2 separate regions of the Homo sapiens genome follow, and region 2 is linked to region 1. A link means that fine-mapping ties the variant in region 1 to the expression of a gene that starts in the linked region. Tissue or cell type: testis. Region 1 holds a variant in brackets; the other region holds the start of a gene. All regions are shown on one strand. Distances are between the middles of the regions.

What was found. PIP is the estimated chance that this variant, and not a neighbour inherited with it, causes the effect.
Region 2: it holds the start of PPP2R2C, and the variant in region 1 is fine-mapped to the expression of PPP2R2C in testis (GTEx, PIP above 0.99).

The regions. Positions count from the first base shown.
Region 1 is chr4:6,377,823-6,385,915 of GRCh38, forward strand. PPP2R2C (protein phosphatase 2 regulatory subunit Bgamma) reads right to left here. Exons shown (of 9, transcript NM_020416.4): 2 at 3,175-3,272; 3 at 585-750. Among named protein-coding and RNA genes, the nearest start is that of PPP2R2C, 91 kb to the right of the region's middle. The variant C/A (reference allele first, on the strand shown) is at 4,243.
Region 2 is chr4:6,467,865-6,475,959 of GRCh38, forward strand. PPP2R2C (protein phosphatase 2 regulatory subunit Bgamma) reads right to left here and starts at 4,750. Exons shown (of 9, transcript NM_020416.4): 1 at 4,296-4,750. The coding sequence starts at 4,365. RefSeq lists an enhancer at 2,229-3,059.

The DNA.
Region 1 (8,093 bases):
CCTGGGAAGCAGGCGTCAGGCCGAGAGCCTCCGGTGCCTGAGGGGTACATGCTCCTCCCTGAGGCAAGAGGATTAAGAGGCCGGCCGGGGTCCTAAACCAAGGCTCCTCCCACTGCCCCGCAAGGCCGCGGTGACAGCCCCAGTCTAGGGGTCTGGATTCGGCGTGGGGAGGAGGGGTTCACTTTGTGTCAAATATCCCCCGTGTCTGCGACCTGCATCCTTGTCCATCACACTCCCTCACCCCAAAGCAAAGGCCTACAAAGATGGCTCGGATGGCTCTATTCACAGCAGGGGGCAGCCCTGTGTCTGGCCATGGGGAGCTTCTGAGAGGGTCTGGCATACTCACTCATGGGATTTACATGCTGCTCAAAAAGGGGGGCAGCCCTGTGTCCAGACACAGGGAGCGTCTGAGGGGGTCTGGCATACTCACTCATGGGATTTATATGCTGCTCAAAAAGGATATTATTTTCTAGGCGTTCTGAAGACATAGAAAAATGCTCACAATATAAGTGAAATACAAACCAGCATTTGGTAGAAACATCTACGGCCTGTGCCCATGCAAGCGAGGCCGGGCAGCGCCTCACCGTTGGTGGACAGGAGTGAGTGGGCGGCGTTCTGCTGTGGGAGCCACTTGATCTTGTTGATCTTCTCCTCTATCTCCAGGCTCTTGAGATAGTCAAACTCCGGCTCGTGGCTCTGGAAAGTGCTGTACACGTCGTATTCGCCCTGGCTGTGGGGCGCATTTTTACTCTGCAGGGAAACCCGGAGAAGGGGCCTGAGCACCGTGACCTGCAGGGCGACGGCTAGGACCTCCGGGGACCCAGCAGGGCCGGCCGTGGGACCAAGTGCCGAGCCGTGCCAGGGATCCAATTCGAGGGTCAAATGAAACTCTCTGCAGCTTAACCGGCCCATGACTTGCAGTGTGCCAGGGACAAGCCCCGCTCCCGTGCGGTCCCATGAAACACTCACACCCGAGCCGGCTAACTTGCTAATGCGAATGTTCCCCAGCGCCTGCTACAAGCTGGACACCCCACTAAGTCCTCCCCGCACCATCGCATTCTACCCTCCAGGCCTCCTCTGCTTGAGCACCACGACTCTCCCCATTTCACAGACCAGCAAACAGAGACTCAGAGGGGAAGTGACTTCCCAGAGCCGTGAGGTCACTCTCCGGCGAGCACCCCTCTGCCGAGGCCTGCCTGACGCCAAGGCTTGAGGCTCTGGCCACCCTCGTGTCTTGGGCCCTGACTTGCTCCTGGATTCCACGTGTCCAACTCAGGCCTGACTTGAGGAATAAATGAATTTGGGAGCAGACTTTAACATTGGGACAGAATGTCTGGCAATGTCAGACCTGGATTGGAATCTGTCCCCGGCTTTCCTCAGCAGTGCTTGGCCTGGTTTAGGCAGCAGAGCTCCTTCTAATAAAGACCCTTGACCGTGGAGCTCCCAGCATAGTCAGGTGGTGAGTCCACTGTGTGCGCCAGGGACCACGTTCCCAGGAGAGAGTTCAACTCATACGACAACACGAAACCCCAACCAGGGAGAAACGGAGACATTCAACCCAGAACAATTTCAAGATTTCCTGGTAATTTTTTTAAGTATCTATATTTCTATCCCTGTCTTGCTTTTGAAAAGCTTAGAAGTTCTCCAATATTTTTGCCTCTAATTCACTTCACTTCCCATGAGCACTCGCTATGACAAAGGTCAGTGGGACTAGAAGGAAGAAAACACTAAAGGAGAAAAATTCAAAATGAAGAAAATCGCATCAACCAATCCGATCTCTTTCTGCAGCTTGGCAAAAAGAAGGCTGAGCTTCGCAGTGCCTGGTGGGACACCCCACAGGTGCATCTGGTGAAGCCCACAGGTGCTGGCCGAGTGCTGTGTTTGAGGAACTGATTGGCAGCTAGGATGTGCCCCTTGTCAACTATTTTAACCCTCTGCACTCTGGGCTCCTCCTCTGTAAAATGAGGGGAGTAGCCGCACTGCACTACACCCACAGGGTCACCGTGAGGAGGGTTATGTGAGCCACCAAGATAAAGTCAGACTCAAGGATCCTCAGTTCGTGGGCCATGCTCAGGAGTGAATCGGGGGAAAGATGATTCCGCAGGTCCTCTCTTCACCCCCGGCTTCCTCCCCTCCCTCCTACCTCCCCTTCTCCACCTTCTCTTCTCCTCCTCCCCTCCCCTCCCCTGCCTCTCCTGCTCCATCCCCTCCTCCCTCCTCCTTGGTTTCCTGGATGTCTTCTGCATCTAATTCCAGGCACAGTCCGTGTTTGCGGGGGGAGACGCCCTCTCTGAGGCCGGGTGGTGTGTGACGTTGCTGGCCACTGTCCTGGCGTCGGGCAGCCAGGTCTGCTGTTCACTAGCTGGGTGGCTTCTCTGAGTTTCCGCATCTGTCACAGGGGTGTGGATCTGGCCCTCGGAGGTGAGCAGTGCAGAGTAAACCAGAAGCAACTCCAGAATACTTAGCAAGTGTTCTCAGTAAATGGGCTTTTGTCCCGAGGCTCTTTCAGTGTTCCAGAAACGTGGTCCTGGGCAGGTTGTCCAGGCCACTGCTGTCTTACCCAGAGTTCTGCTGGACAACAAGCCCCCGGGGGTGGGGGTGAGGACAGGGGTGAGGACAAGGGCCCAGGCCTGAGCAAAAACCACCTAGCTCAGTCTGAGGGCTGTGACAGCTGGGCAAGAGTGGAGTCCTCCCGCTCCCCAGTCTGGCCAGGACAACGCAGGTCACCCAGGCAGAGGAAGGTTTCACTGAAGGCACAAGCTGGGGCAGCAGCTGCCTGTGCCACATCCTGACCATTCATCCAGGGTCTAGGACAGAGCATGGGATGCAGGCAGCTCTCCGCAAACATCGGCTGAGGGCAGGGGGCTCAGAACCTGGCTTTGCCAGCCCACCCAGTGCACTCCCCCTACCACCGCCCGCCACTCCCACCTCGGCATTCCAAAGCATCCCATTCCCACCCCTGGAATCCATGCCCCTGGGAGATGTGATCCAGGCAAGACACCCCACACCTCCTGTCAGTTAAAAGCCCTCTTGTGGGTTGGAGTATAGTCCCCTCCCACCTCTCACCGCATCACCCCTTATCCCCCTTATCCTTATCCCCTCCCACCATGCCCGCCTCCCACCTGACTCTGCTCCCCACCCCTCCCACCTCCCACCAGACCCAGGGCTTCGCACCTCTGGTTCCCGCTGGAAGATGACGACCCGGCCGCCCTTGTCACCTGTGGCCAGCAGCTCTCCCGTGTGGTTGAACTCAACGGTAGAGATGATGTCAGCTGGGAGGGGAACAGCAAGACGGGAAGGGGTGGCTGTCAGAACCCGCCTCTCCCGGGTGCTCAACAGTGCCACAGCAATGGCGAGCTCCCCGCTCCCCGAGGCCCCACAGCCCTGGGCAGGAGGCAGCAGGGAGCCTGAGGGGTCAGGAGCATCGGCGAGGGGCCACCAACCTGTCCCCTCCTGCCCTCCTCTTCCCTCTGCACTGGCTGCAGGGCAGAGATCTCGGGACTTGGCACAGGCCTGGGGCGACCACAGTGGCTGGCAGACTTTATAGTAACTGGACACTCTATGGGACTCACGGTGGTATCTGAAGCCACCTGGATGTGGCCTCATCCTCCTGTCTTGAATCTCCCACACCTACCCCTGCCACCCAGGCCCCCATGCTCCAGCAACCTGGGTCAGGGAAGCCCTTCCCAATATCTCCATAGATAAGCGCAAGGCAACCCTCTGCTAGGGGCCCACTCAGGGCTTCCCACACAGTAGGACAGAGGTGAATTACCCCCTCTCCTTCAGACTCCTGCTCTGTGGCCCCACCTCCAGGCAGGCCTCTGGGATCGCTCTCTAATCTCTGCTCGCAGAAGCGAAGCTCAGCCCTGCCTGCCCTGACCCTCCCTGCACTTCATCCCAACCATGTTTCTTCAGGTCACTCAGGAACCTCTCCTTATGGAGTCACCCCCATACCTGGAGTCTTCAATGCCCAGGGCTGGCCTTCCTGGATGGGCAAGTGTTTGGAGAAAAAAGACAGCCCCATCTCCAGGCCCCACTTTTTGCATGTGGGAACTAGGGGAACACCCCTTCCATCACCAACATTCTCAGGTTCTACGAGTCACAGAGATGAGTGGCCTGCACATTCTGGGTGGCCAGCCCTGGGAGTGGGGGAGAGCAGGGGAGGACAAGGCCCTAGCCTGGAAGAGAAACCCCCACTGGAGGACAGCTCACCAACCTGAAGCCTGAGGCCTGCTCCACCAA[C/A]AAGTTTTACTGCAGCCCCAAAATGATTATTACTTTTAATTTGAAGTCATTCTTAATATTTGAAAAGTAGAAGATTTCCTATAAAAATCCACATTTCCAGTATGTCTTGGAAGATGGAAAGTTCTAGAATACCATCCCCATAGGCCCAAGCAGCAAAAGCTAGTAGGAGCCCGGGATGGCCCGCTGCTGTGAATGGGACCTCTGTCGTTCTTTGCTCTCCTGGCCTGGATTCTGTAGTCTCCAAAATCTGTGATACCACCTTTAGCAAAATGGATCTACTTTCAAACCAGCCACAGATCTGACCGTTGCTCCCTGTAGCCACAGAGAGGACACTCCACAGGGTTCCCTGTCCCAGCCTCTGTTCTCCCTCTGGCGGCCAACGTGATGACCAAACTCCTGAGCCAGTGCATCCCTGTGTCCCTCTATTCAAAACCCTTCATTGGTCACCATAACTGAATTCTGATCCCTCCTCAGCCTCATCCTCTGCAGCTTCCCCAGTCTCAGGTGATGACAGCTCTATTGTTCACTTGCTCAGGCCCAAGCCTTGGAGTTTCTCGTTCTCTCTCTCTCTCTCTCTCTCTCTCTCTCTCTCTCTCTCTCTCTCTCTCTCTCACACACACACACACACACACACACACACACACACACACACCCCACATCCAATCCTGCCTGCTCAGCCTTCACAGCATATCGGGATGCCAGCCACTCTCCCACCTCTCACTGGATGACTGCCACAGCTCTTTCTCCCTGGCTATGACGTAGCCTCAACAGACTGGCAGCAGAGAGGCTGGTAACACCCAGGACTGATCCTGGCACTCCCCTGCTCAAAACCCTCCAGCGGCTCCCATTGTGTACTCAGAGAAAAGCACAGAGTGTTCTAAAGGCAGCCCCCACCTGCCGAGGCCCAGGTGGGCCGCATCTGGAGCCAAACCTTCACCCCTCCCATGGTGGGCCAGGTGACCTGTTCTCTGCCCCCCACCTTGATTCTGGGCTTGTCCCTGTGTTTTGCTTTGGCCTGCAGAACGGCAATTCGACAAGCCGCAAACAGAGATGCAAAGGGGCTTAGGTACTGGGGGTTGCCATCAACGCCTCTGGCGGTACCAGGAGCAGGACCTGCGCAGGCTGGCCCACTGGCCCCTGAGGGGGAGGAGGAAGAGTGGGTGCAGAAGAACCCCCCCAACCCCCGGCCAAGCCCAGCCTCCAGCAGGGCCCCACTGACCCACAGAGCAGGGCAAGCCCAGCCAAGCCCAGACCACAGAATCGCAGATGCAAGATGATGAAAACATTTACTGTTGTATGCACGGGGTCTCGTGTTTTTAACTCAGCAAAAGGTACCTCCTCCCCTTCCCCAGCCTCATCTACTGCTCTCCACCTGCTTATTCCCCTCCAAACACCAGGCTCCTTGCCCTTTCCCAAAAGTCCTGGCCACCTGCTGTCCCAAGACCTGCTCTCTCGGCCTGCAGTGGCTTTCCCTGGGTACCAGCATGGCTCCTTCCTATTCTTCCAATTCTGCCCCACTGCTGCCTTCCCGTGAGCACAGCTTGGATCACCTTGCTGAAACTGCTGTCTGCACCCCAGCACCCTCATACAGGACACCCTGACCATCCCTGCCCCAACCTAATCTGATGTTTTTCTTTCTGTAAAGGCTTTTATCATCTGTAGGCTCTCTTCCTGGCCAGAACGTAAACTTCATGAGGGCAGGAGCCTCAGGCTTAATTCACGGCTTCAAATGGTGCCTGTATGCAGTAGCCAGGCCAGAGATATCTATCCAAGAAATGCCTTTTCTTTTTCCAGTCTGGGCCTTTTAGGACAGCTCCTGGCCTGCCCTGGCCTTCTGAGCCATGAGTCAATGCCAGCTTTGAGGCAACAGAAAAGATTGAGAGAGGGTGGTTAGAAGTGGGATGACGGGCTGGACGTATCCATCCATCCATCAAGACAGATGCACATGTCACTGAACTTAAAAAGACAAGATAAGAAAAGCAGCTCTGTGGGAACACGGAAACGCCCACCGGGCATGGAGTCAGAACAGGGTCAGGTCCCAGCTGTCCTGACATTGTCCCTCCGTGGGGCAGCCTGCCCTGGCCCAGGGACACCCAGACACATCTGGGCAGAAGCCAGAACCACCCAGCCCAGCTGTGCTAGGGTCCCCGATGGGGCGCTGGTTCTTGCTATTTCATATTAAAACCCCCTGAGGGTGAAGGAACGGGATATAAAATTGGGTATAAAATGCTTGTAATGATCTACATCAGTGATTATAGCCATGTGAAATAAGCAAAGAAACTGGGCAGTGGGGAAAAAAGCTGGAAGAGAATTCTCCAAAATGTGAACGGAGGTAGCTTTAGGGTAGCTGGAACAAAATAATATTTCCTCCTCTTTCAACTTGTCCATATTTTCTAGATTTTCTATAATGAAGTTACATCATTTTTTAATAGCTGTATTGAGGTACAATCAATATATAAAACGCTGCACATACTTAATGTATATAATTTGATGAGGGTGGGCATACACACAGTGTATATTATTTTTATGATGGGAACATAACAATGCTATTAAATTAAAATGCCAATATAACTATTGCTATCCCAAGTAAATGCAGTCCACAAATGCTGGGTGGTTACCAGGCAACACACACTAATGTCTGTGGGCAATTTACAATTTATATGTCATTTTCATATCTGCTACCTCCTTTAACCTCACGCCAGCCCCTGCGGGAGACACTACTGTGATTTCCATTTGGCAGCAGAGGAGATGGAGGCTCCCTCCATGAGAGACTACGCCATGAGCTCTTTGCAGACAGAAGTGCTGGTTGGAGTCTTGGCTCCAGTGCTTCAGCTGTGTGGTCTTGGGTAAGCCACACAACTTCTCTGAGCCTTGGTTTCATTATCTGTAGTGTGCTTATGGTGGAGCCTTCCCAGGATTAGAGGTTCAAGTGAGACAAGGAGGTGAGAGGGTCTGGGAGGGAGGAAGAGAAGACGAGGACTCCAGGAATAATGAATCACCAAAATGTACTGGACAGAAACTAAAGCTCCCGGTCACCTGTGCTCCTGGCTGCCACAGAATTGACAGCCACAAGCTCTGCAATGTGGCGATGGATCTGGGCGCCCAACCTCACTGTGGATGGTCCCGCCTACCAGTCCCGCCAGTCGCTCCCTGCAAACATCTACAGAACCACCACCAGACCTCAGATCCCCTCTTGCCTGAGCACTGCTTCCTCTGGCCCATGAAGGAGCTAGTGGATGTTTAATGTCTACTCATTTTTATAGGTAAATGTCTTCAGGATTTGCCTTAGGAAAAGTTGCCTCTCTTGAGTGCCAGAAATTCTCATCAGTAAGGCCATAAAATTGGTTGTTTTGGCAGCCACCTCTGTGAAGAAAGTCCATCTTCTCATCTTGGATTATCTGACATTTCCAGCTCCAATACCACCTCCTCCAGGAAGCCTTCCTGGATAGTCCCCTTTCCCCCTCCCCCAGTTAAGTGGTCTCTCCTACAACTGCAGGCTTTTATTTTATTTATTTATTTTTTTGAGACAGAGTCTCACTTTGTCACCCAGGATGGAGTGCAGCGGTGCAATCTTGGCCCACTGCAACCTGTACCTCCTAGGTTCAAGTGATTCTCGTGCCTCAGCCTCCCGAGTAGTTGGGATTACAGGCACCTGCCACCACACCCAGCTAATTTTTGTATTTTTAGTAGAGATGGGGTTTCACCATATTGGTCAGGTTGGTAAACTCCTGACCTCAAGTGATCTGCCCACCTCGACCTCCCAAAGTGCTGGGATTACAGGTGTGAGCCACCGCGCCCGGCCTACAAGTGCAGTCTTAAGGCCATTGTGTGCTCTTCACTAGGTACTGACA
Region 2 (8,095 bases), 90 kb after region 1:
ATGGTGTCAGATGGCTGCCAGCCACCACAAGGTTTCCCTGTTCCCATCACAAGAGAGGGACCAACTACCTGTGGTTCTCCCTACTTTCCACTCAACCTCCAGAACTGACTCCCACATCCATTCTGGAACCAGTCACTGCAAGGGGAATGAGATCATCCTTGCACTGATCACATCCAGCTATGGCCTGAGATCTCTTACTAGGAACCATATGTGTTCTCCTTGGAAGAAGAGAGACTAACTGTTGTGGAGATCAGCTGCAACGTCCACCATAAGGGTGCAGATTTCACTGAATGCTGAGTCTCCCACAAGCAGCATCCCCTCTTCAGTGTGGTTTCCTGGGCAGAAAGTAGATGGTATCCAGGGCACAACCAGTTCAAAACCTGCAGACAATTCCATGCAGGAAAACCTGCCTGCCTGCTGCGTTCAGACAGCCTCAGGACCCCATGATGACCTTAGCAATTCCCAAGCATCCTTCACTTCCTCAACTATAAAATCAGGACAACTCTGTGGGAATAAACAGACTACTCTGAAATCACACAGGACATCCAGGGATGGGAGTTAGGAAAACATGGGTACATCCTTTATGCAGATGCAAAAAGCATGAGTGTCCAACAGTGTGTGATGGCTGAGATGCTCAAACAAGGGGAAGCTGTGCCTCTGGCCTCAGCTGAAAAGTGTGCTCCGGAAGTGCCTTACCTGTCAGGCACATGAGAGTGACTGTTGCTCCCCAGAAAGACCCAGTCACTGCCAGGATCTACCTGGTCAGCCTGAACCACCTCCCCTTGGCTGAGCTCCTGTGTCTTGGTCATCACTGCTGCCCAGGGCAGGATGTGCTTGGCAAATGGTGCTAAGCAAAGGAAGGATGGATGGGTTTTGTAAGTTCAGTCTAGTCTGGAAGTGCTTATTCAACTCACTCTAAAGCTAAGTACTGAGGCCTGCCGCAAAAAGAGAAAGAACAGAGCCAGGAAGAGTCCTTCCTGGAACCATATCCAGCTCTTGAGAAATGTCTAACTAGATGGAGACTTCCTAGCACCCTCCAGGGTCCAGGGCCCAGGGCCCAGTGCCCTATCAGCTGCACTGCTCTCCCCACACCCTGACCCCATTCATGCAAAGTTCTCTGTGCCCCCAGGTGGCCTGCAGGTACACCTAATCATCACCATAACCCTCAATGCAGTTGAGCCCAGCCAAGAGTAAGCCACCCAGCCCTGCCACCAAAAAAAAAAAAAAAAAAAAAAAAAAAAATCCAACCTGCTCTGACGAATTCACACCAAGATGTGAATGACTAACAAAACCTAAACTCTTCCTAAGATGTTTGAGATTTTACAAGAGACTCAGGAACCCAAGCAGGGCTCCCACGGGCAAAGATGACATTGGACATGGGGCCCAAAGGATGAGAAAGAGTCAGTGGTGAGAAAGGCAGGAGGTGGGTATTCCAGGCAACAGCCATTGCAAACGCCCTGAAGCAAGAAAGAAAATGGCCTGCTCAAGGAACAGGAGGTAGATCAGAGCAGCTGGGGTGTGGTGGGGGAGTGTAGACTCAACCACAGGTAGAACAGGAGTTTGTGCACCTGGTTCTTCCGCAAACTGAATTTTAGCATCCACTGTTTGCCCACAGGCTCTTCCAGTTACAAGGCATATAAATAATAACAATGCCATGTGTTCAATGCCTCCAACAACCCAAGCACTGTGCTGGGCACTTTTGATATTAGCAAAATCACTGATCATCCCAGCAACCCTGTATGAAAGGTCGTTATTATTTCTCCCTTTACAAAGGGAAAGTGAAGCTCAGGAAGGTGTAGTAACTTGTCCAAGGCTGCACAGCAGTCAGGAGTCAGAGGCAGGACTTTAACATGATTCAAGTCTGACATTCTGACATTCAAATCTGTGACCTTCCCTGTGCTCTGAGCATGAAATATAGTCAGGATGCAACAGTGTGAAAGTGTGTTTTTCATTAGGGAGGCCAGAATTCTACCTATTATAATGATTATTATTGTTTCTTGTTCCGATCCTGCTCTCTGCATCCGCAGCACCTGAGCCCTATGCCCTGCACACACTGGCACTCGGTCTGGACCAGGCACAAGGCCAGGCCTTGGTTTGTTCATCTCAAGGTGGGGATAAGGCGTAGGTGAGCCTTCGTATGAGGTCCCAGCACACAGCAGGTGCTCAGCATCCTTTGGCTGCACGTTAGCAATGCATAGCTCTGAACGGCTCCTTCAACACCGTTGCACCTGCTCCTCACAGAAACCTCCAGACCCTGTAGGCAGGATTCACTCCCATTTTACAGATGGGGAGACTGAGCCCTGGTGAGAAGACAGACCTCAAGGTCATATAGCTCCCTGATAGAATTCAGGCCGCACAAGGGCAGGGAGTCTTTGTCCAGTCCCCAGGGATAAAACAGTGCCCGGCATGCAGCAGGTGCTCGGTAAATATCTCGTGTCTGGATGAAGGATTGGATAGCACTGCTCTGACCTCCAGAACTGTGCCGTCCCCGTTCCTGTGCCCTGCTGAGGGCTGGTGAATTTATGAAAGAAAAGGGGACGGGCAGGGTGCAGAGGGAATTAATGTTTGAAAATGTCCACCATGGCGCTTTTTACGCCTGGTCCCACAACGAGCCCTGCGCCCCATCCCACCGTCATCCCCAACGTAGAGATGAGCAAACAGAGGCTTGCTCCAGGAAGCCAGACCACAGCGAGCCTGGGAGCAGCGGGGCAACCTGCCAAGATCCGCTCTCGGCCCGAGCCAGGCCACCGAGGCACGGGCCAGCAACCCGGCGGCTTCCTCCAACCCTCTGTCGCTGCAGGCTGCGAGCAGAAACCACATCCCGGACCCACGCTGATCCCGACTCAGCCTCGCCGAAGCAGGCGACAAAGGACCGCTCTCAGCTCCCCGGGCCTCCCAAAGCCGCGGCCGGGTCAGAGCCCCACCGGCCCGGAGGCCCGGGCAGCCCTGCCCCTCTCTCGCACACACCCGGCGGCGAAGCGTGCGTGACTCAGCGGTTCTCCCGCCGGGAGCGGGCGCGGCCCCCGCAGCCTCCCTCCGCCCAGGTCCCACGCCCAGCCTCTGCCTCCCGGGCCAGGGCGCCCCGAGCCCGCCCGCGCCCGCGCTCGCGCTGCGCTCCCCGGGCCTCCGCGGGGCTCCGGCTCCGCTCGGCCTCATTTCCGGCAGAGCCAGGCTTCGAGGAGGCGGACCCAGCCGCAGGAGCCCGGTCTCCGCCGCCTGGCCCACTCGGTCTCCCTGACACAGGCACCCACGCGCACCTGCCCCGCGGGACCCGTGCCCAGGGCCCCTCCCACTGGGGCACCCACCCGGGGAATCCGCGCACACTTCTGCGGCCGGGCCGCCAGCCCGTGGGTTAGCGGCTGACAGTCCCCGCACTCGGGCAGGGCTCCAGCACAGGCGGCCCCGAGCCCAGACCTCCCGGTCCCCATCCTCCATCGGGGTCACTCCGCGGGCCCTGCCTGCGCACGGAAGCTGTCCCCACTGTTCCCCTAGCGAGGCAGACCAGGGGGCCCCCGGAAGTTCCAGGCCTGTAAGAGAGGGGCGCTGACCCACCAGCCTCGGGGGTAGGGTGGGGGTGGGGGTTGGGCTTGTAGGGCCAACTTAGGGGATTTTAAACAGGGCCTGTTTGGGATGGCATGTCCCACTTTTTTGGAAAATCCCGACAGTTAGCCCAGCTGCTCCTGTCTCAATATAACTCACCAGGAATAAAAAGGCCAGCCCCAAACCAGCCGCCTTCTCCCTCCCACTCAGGGACCCTGCCTCTGGAGGACAGGGAGGGGCCCGGGCAGGCGGGCCTCCCAGGAGGATCTGGCAATGGATTATGTTTTTTTCCCCCCGGGTCCCTCTTCTTCTCCAGGGAGAGGGCAGCCTAGAAAATTCTGCGGGCTTTGGGCAGGGCTGAAATGGCAAATCCAGGATTTAAACCATTAAATTTCCCCGAGATTTCTTCACCAGATTAGCCACAGCCGTGGCCTTTTAAAAAATTATGGTCAGGGCCGAATCAGGATGCCACCTGGCTTGGGAGAGGAAAGCTGCCTCCCGGAGGGCGGCGCGGAGGAGGGCGCTGCCCTGTGCCGGCGCTGGGCAGCGGAGGCCGGTACCCTCGGGCTCCCTCCCTCCTGGGCCCCGGGCAGGGTGGGATGGGATGGGGTGGGGTGGGGTGGGATGGGGTGGGGTGGGGTGGGGCGGGGGGACACGACACACATCGCGCGGTCCAAACCTTCGGAGGGCATTCGGTGCGACGGCATCCCCACGCCGCGGCCGGCCGGAGGGGTCTCAGACAACACGTACGTTACCTTCAGTCACATAGCTGTGGTCCCGCAGGAAGCTGTGGTTAATTTTCCGCGTGTCCGTGTCCTCGCCCATTGAAGGCCGTGCCCGGTGCTCTGGGCATGCCCCGCCGCCACACACCGATGCAATCCGCAGAGGTCGCGCCGGGCGCGCGGGCCATGCCGCCGCAGCCTAGCAGGGGCGCGGGCCGCCGGGGCCCCGAAGGGAGGGCATCGCGGCAGGGGGACGGGCGGGGGCGGCCGGGGGCGGGCGCCGCGGTCAAGCGAGCGCGCGGTGGGCGGGCGGCGGCCGCGGGTTCGGGCGGGCCGGGGCCCAGGCGCGCATCCCGGCCGGCCCGTGCGCGCTGCGTCCGTGCGCCCGGCGGCGGGGCCTGGTGCCGGTGCGCCTGGCTGCGGCGACGGCGGCGAGGGGACGCGCGCGGCGCTGCGCTGCGCCGACCAAGCCGGGGCCGAGCCGGGCTGCGCGGGCTGGGGCCGCCGCCGCCGCCGCTGTCGCAGGCCCCTCCCTCGCGCCGCCCGCTCTCCGCCCCCGCGGCCCTGCAGGTGGAGCCGGCGCCCAAGCCGAGGCTGCACCGCCGTGCTCGGGCCCTCGCGGTGGGCACCTTGGTGCTGGGTGCGCCACGGGGGAGGGAGGAAGGAGACCGCCAGCTTGCGGGGAGAGGGTGATCAGCTGAGCTTGGGGGGAGGGTACCTTGGGTGCCCAGGTGCTCCAGTTATGGGAGAGAAGGCCAAGAGCCGGGGTGCTGGGAAGGGGGCAGGAGGAGAGCAGCCTCGCAGGCAGAAGGCAGAAAGGACTAGGAAGGAAGGAGTGGGGTCGCAGTTGAAGAGGGCGCACCTGGAGAATGGGGACTCGGGGGAGGGGAAGGACACTGTCTCCCTTCATTAGTAGAAGAGGGTGGGTCGCGCAAGTTCTGGGGCCCGTTGGGAGCATTAAGTACATGTGAAGAAGCTGGTGGAGGGGGTCCAGCAGCCGACAAGGCAAAACTGGATGAAATGGCTGGAGGGGTGATTGGGCCTCCCCCAGGCAGGGCTCTGAGATCTCTCCTCATGCCCACCTCTCCTGACGAGTGAGAAAGTTAAAGAAATACAGAGCTAGGTACCTCCAAAACCAGGCTGGAAAATGCGTCCCCCTCCTCCCTTCCCTCCCTCCCCTCCAAACCCAGGGCTCTGCCAAACAGGAACCTCCCTCTGGTAATCAGCCTGGCACATAGTGGGCCCTCAAAAAATATTTGCCTCCTGTTTTGCCAAGCTGCCACCTCCTCCACCGTGACCCACCGCCTAATGAATCACAGTCCCCTGCACGGGACACAAGCCCCAGTGGGGATTCAGAGGTGTGGGTGAGGAACCATCAGCCCTCCCTAGGAGCTCAACAGAGCCTTCCTGGAAAGCGAGGGACTCTGTGGCTTGCCTGGGAGGGGTAAGTGCAGTGGGGTGACCAGAGCTGCAGGGGCTCTTGGGTCTAAGGCATCAGTGGAGCCATGCTCCAGGTGGGGGCTGGTCTGTAATGGCCTCCACTTGTTTCAAATGGTTCTGGGGGAACTCCAGACAGCTCCCCAAACTGCAGTGGAGGTAGGAGAGTCCAAAGGCGTTGGGGGCAGGGAGACTGGGGCTGTGGGAAAGACGAGGGAAGGTGATGCCGTCTCAGATTTCTTGGAGATTGAGAGGGAGTTTTTGAAGCTACAGCTTTCGTGCCTTTGAAATCCCCAGAATGGACCTATGAGGAGATGAAAGCCCCCCAGCAGCCCCACCAGCACTCTGCAGGCTGTCATGCAAGGGCTGGCCTGGGGAGAGGCCCTGGGGCCCTGCCAGCACCTGCTTTGGCAAGTGCCCTGCCCTGTTCCAGCCTCTACCTTTTCACTGTGGAACAAGCCAAAATCTCCCAGCTGTGCAGACTCCATTCAAGGACCAGGTAAATGCAAGGGCCGGAAGGATGTGCTTGTTCTTTGTCACTTTCTACCCCGTAGGAAAGTGACCGACACCCACATTGGCCCCCACCCACCTGGCATGTTCTCCTCTCTCTCTCTCACCTGTCTGCTCACATGCCCCCCACCTCACATCCTAAGGCCAGCCCCCCACTCTCTGTCCACACCCCCTCACCTCTCTAGCTGGAGCCAGCAAAATGGCTATGCTGGGAGAAAGACAGGCTGGGTTCAAGTCCTGACCACAAGGGGGCCCAGGCACAACCTCATCTGTAAAGTGGATGTGATGGCAGGAGTGGCCCCACTGGGTTGGGGTGGCCAGTCCTGCTCAGCAGGGGTCAGGCCTCCTGGGAGCTCTCTTGTTATCATGCTGAGGCCCACCCTCCCGCATGTTCCTCAGCCTCCCTCTCTGATCATGGAGAAGTCCCCTCTCCCTATCTGTCAATCCTGCCAAAACACCCACCCTATGCTGGCATCAGCCTCATCTCCCGGGATGTCCTGGACTACAATGAAAACAGCCCCACTCTGGCCTGACACAGTACATCATCCCTTTCATCAGCTTCTGAGCCATGCTGGGGACCCTGCAGTGGGTGGTCTTTCCAACCTGACTGGGCCCCAAGGCTTGCATCCATCCCCTCCTCACCCCTCACCACCCCATCCTGCCCCACCCCCACCACAAGCAGTGTCTGGGCTCCTCCACACTGTCTCCTCCATTTCCTGGAAGCCCTCCCCCTCCAGCACAACCGAGGACTCTCCCTCAGCCCCCTGCCCACCCCCCACCTCCACTAAATCACACAATCTGCTGCTTCCTCATCTGTATCTGCACACAGCCCTGCCCCCGCTGACAGAGCCTGAGCTCCAGATCCTGCCACCCCCAGCCTCTCTGTACAGACTCCTCTCTGTACTTTCATTCATTCAATGAGGAATGTTTATTGAGCATCTACTATGTGTAGGCATGTTCCCAGCACTAGGGTAGTGTGGAAGACAGAATAGAGAAATGCTCTGCTCTCGTGGAGCTGGCCTCCCAGTGGGGTGAGATGGACAGCATAAAGTGAGCATGTACTGTGTGGGCCATGACTGGTGCAGAGGAGAAGGCGGGAATGGAGATGGAGATGAACGGGGATGGAGATGGGGATGGAGATGGAGATGAAGGCGGGGATGGAGATGGAGATAGAAAGGAACGGGGAGGAGGAGGTGCCATTTTATAAAGGTGAGTGTAGAGGAAAGCTCAATAAGGTGAAATTTGTCAGCATCTCTCCAGATGCTTCTCACAGCGTAAGCCTGCTTGGGTCTCTTCCACATTCAAAAGCTATCCTCACTCCGTGTCCCTTCAGCCACCAGCACATTGCATTTCTGCCATTCACAACCACAATGCCAAAAGGGTACAGCTACACTCGCCATCTCCTCACTCACTGCCGTGCCCTCCAACCTGGCTTCTTGCCATCCATCCCACCCCAGAAAAGAAACTTGTGTCAGACGGCATGAGAATGACTTTCCTGTTCCTGGAACCAGTGGACGCATGCTGGCCTCTCTCTATGCTGAGTTCTCGTGGTCTCACCCTGTGGACCATGCGCCTCCCTTTACTTCAGTGGCACCACCTTTCGCTGCCACTTCTCAGCAGGTTTACATGCTCCACTCCTTCTGACGGCCCCACCAGGCTATGTCTCCCTGTGCTTCTGTGCCCCCAACTTGTTGTAATTGACAGAGAGAACATGCATGGAAAGTGTGCTGTGCACCGCACCATGTCCCCTCAAGTGCACAGGCTGAAGCCCTAACCCCCAATGTGATGATGTTTGCAGGTGGGGCCTTTGGGAGATTTGGGTTAGACAAGGCCATGAGGGTGGGGTCTTCATGGAGAGATTAGTGCCCCTATAGGAAGAGACCAAA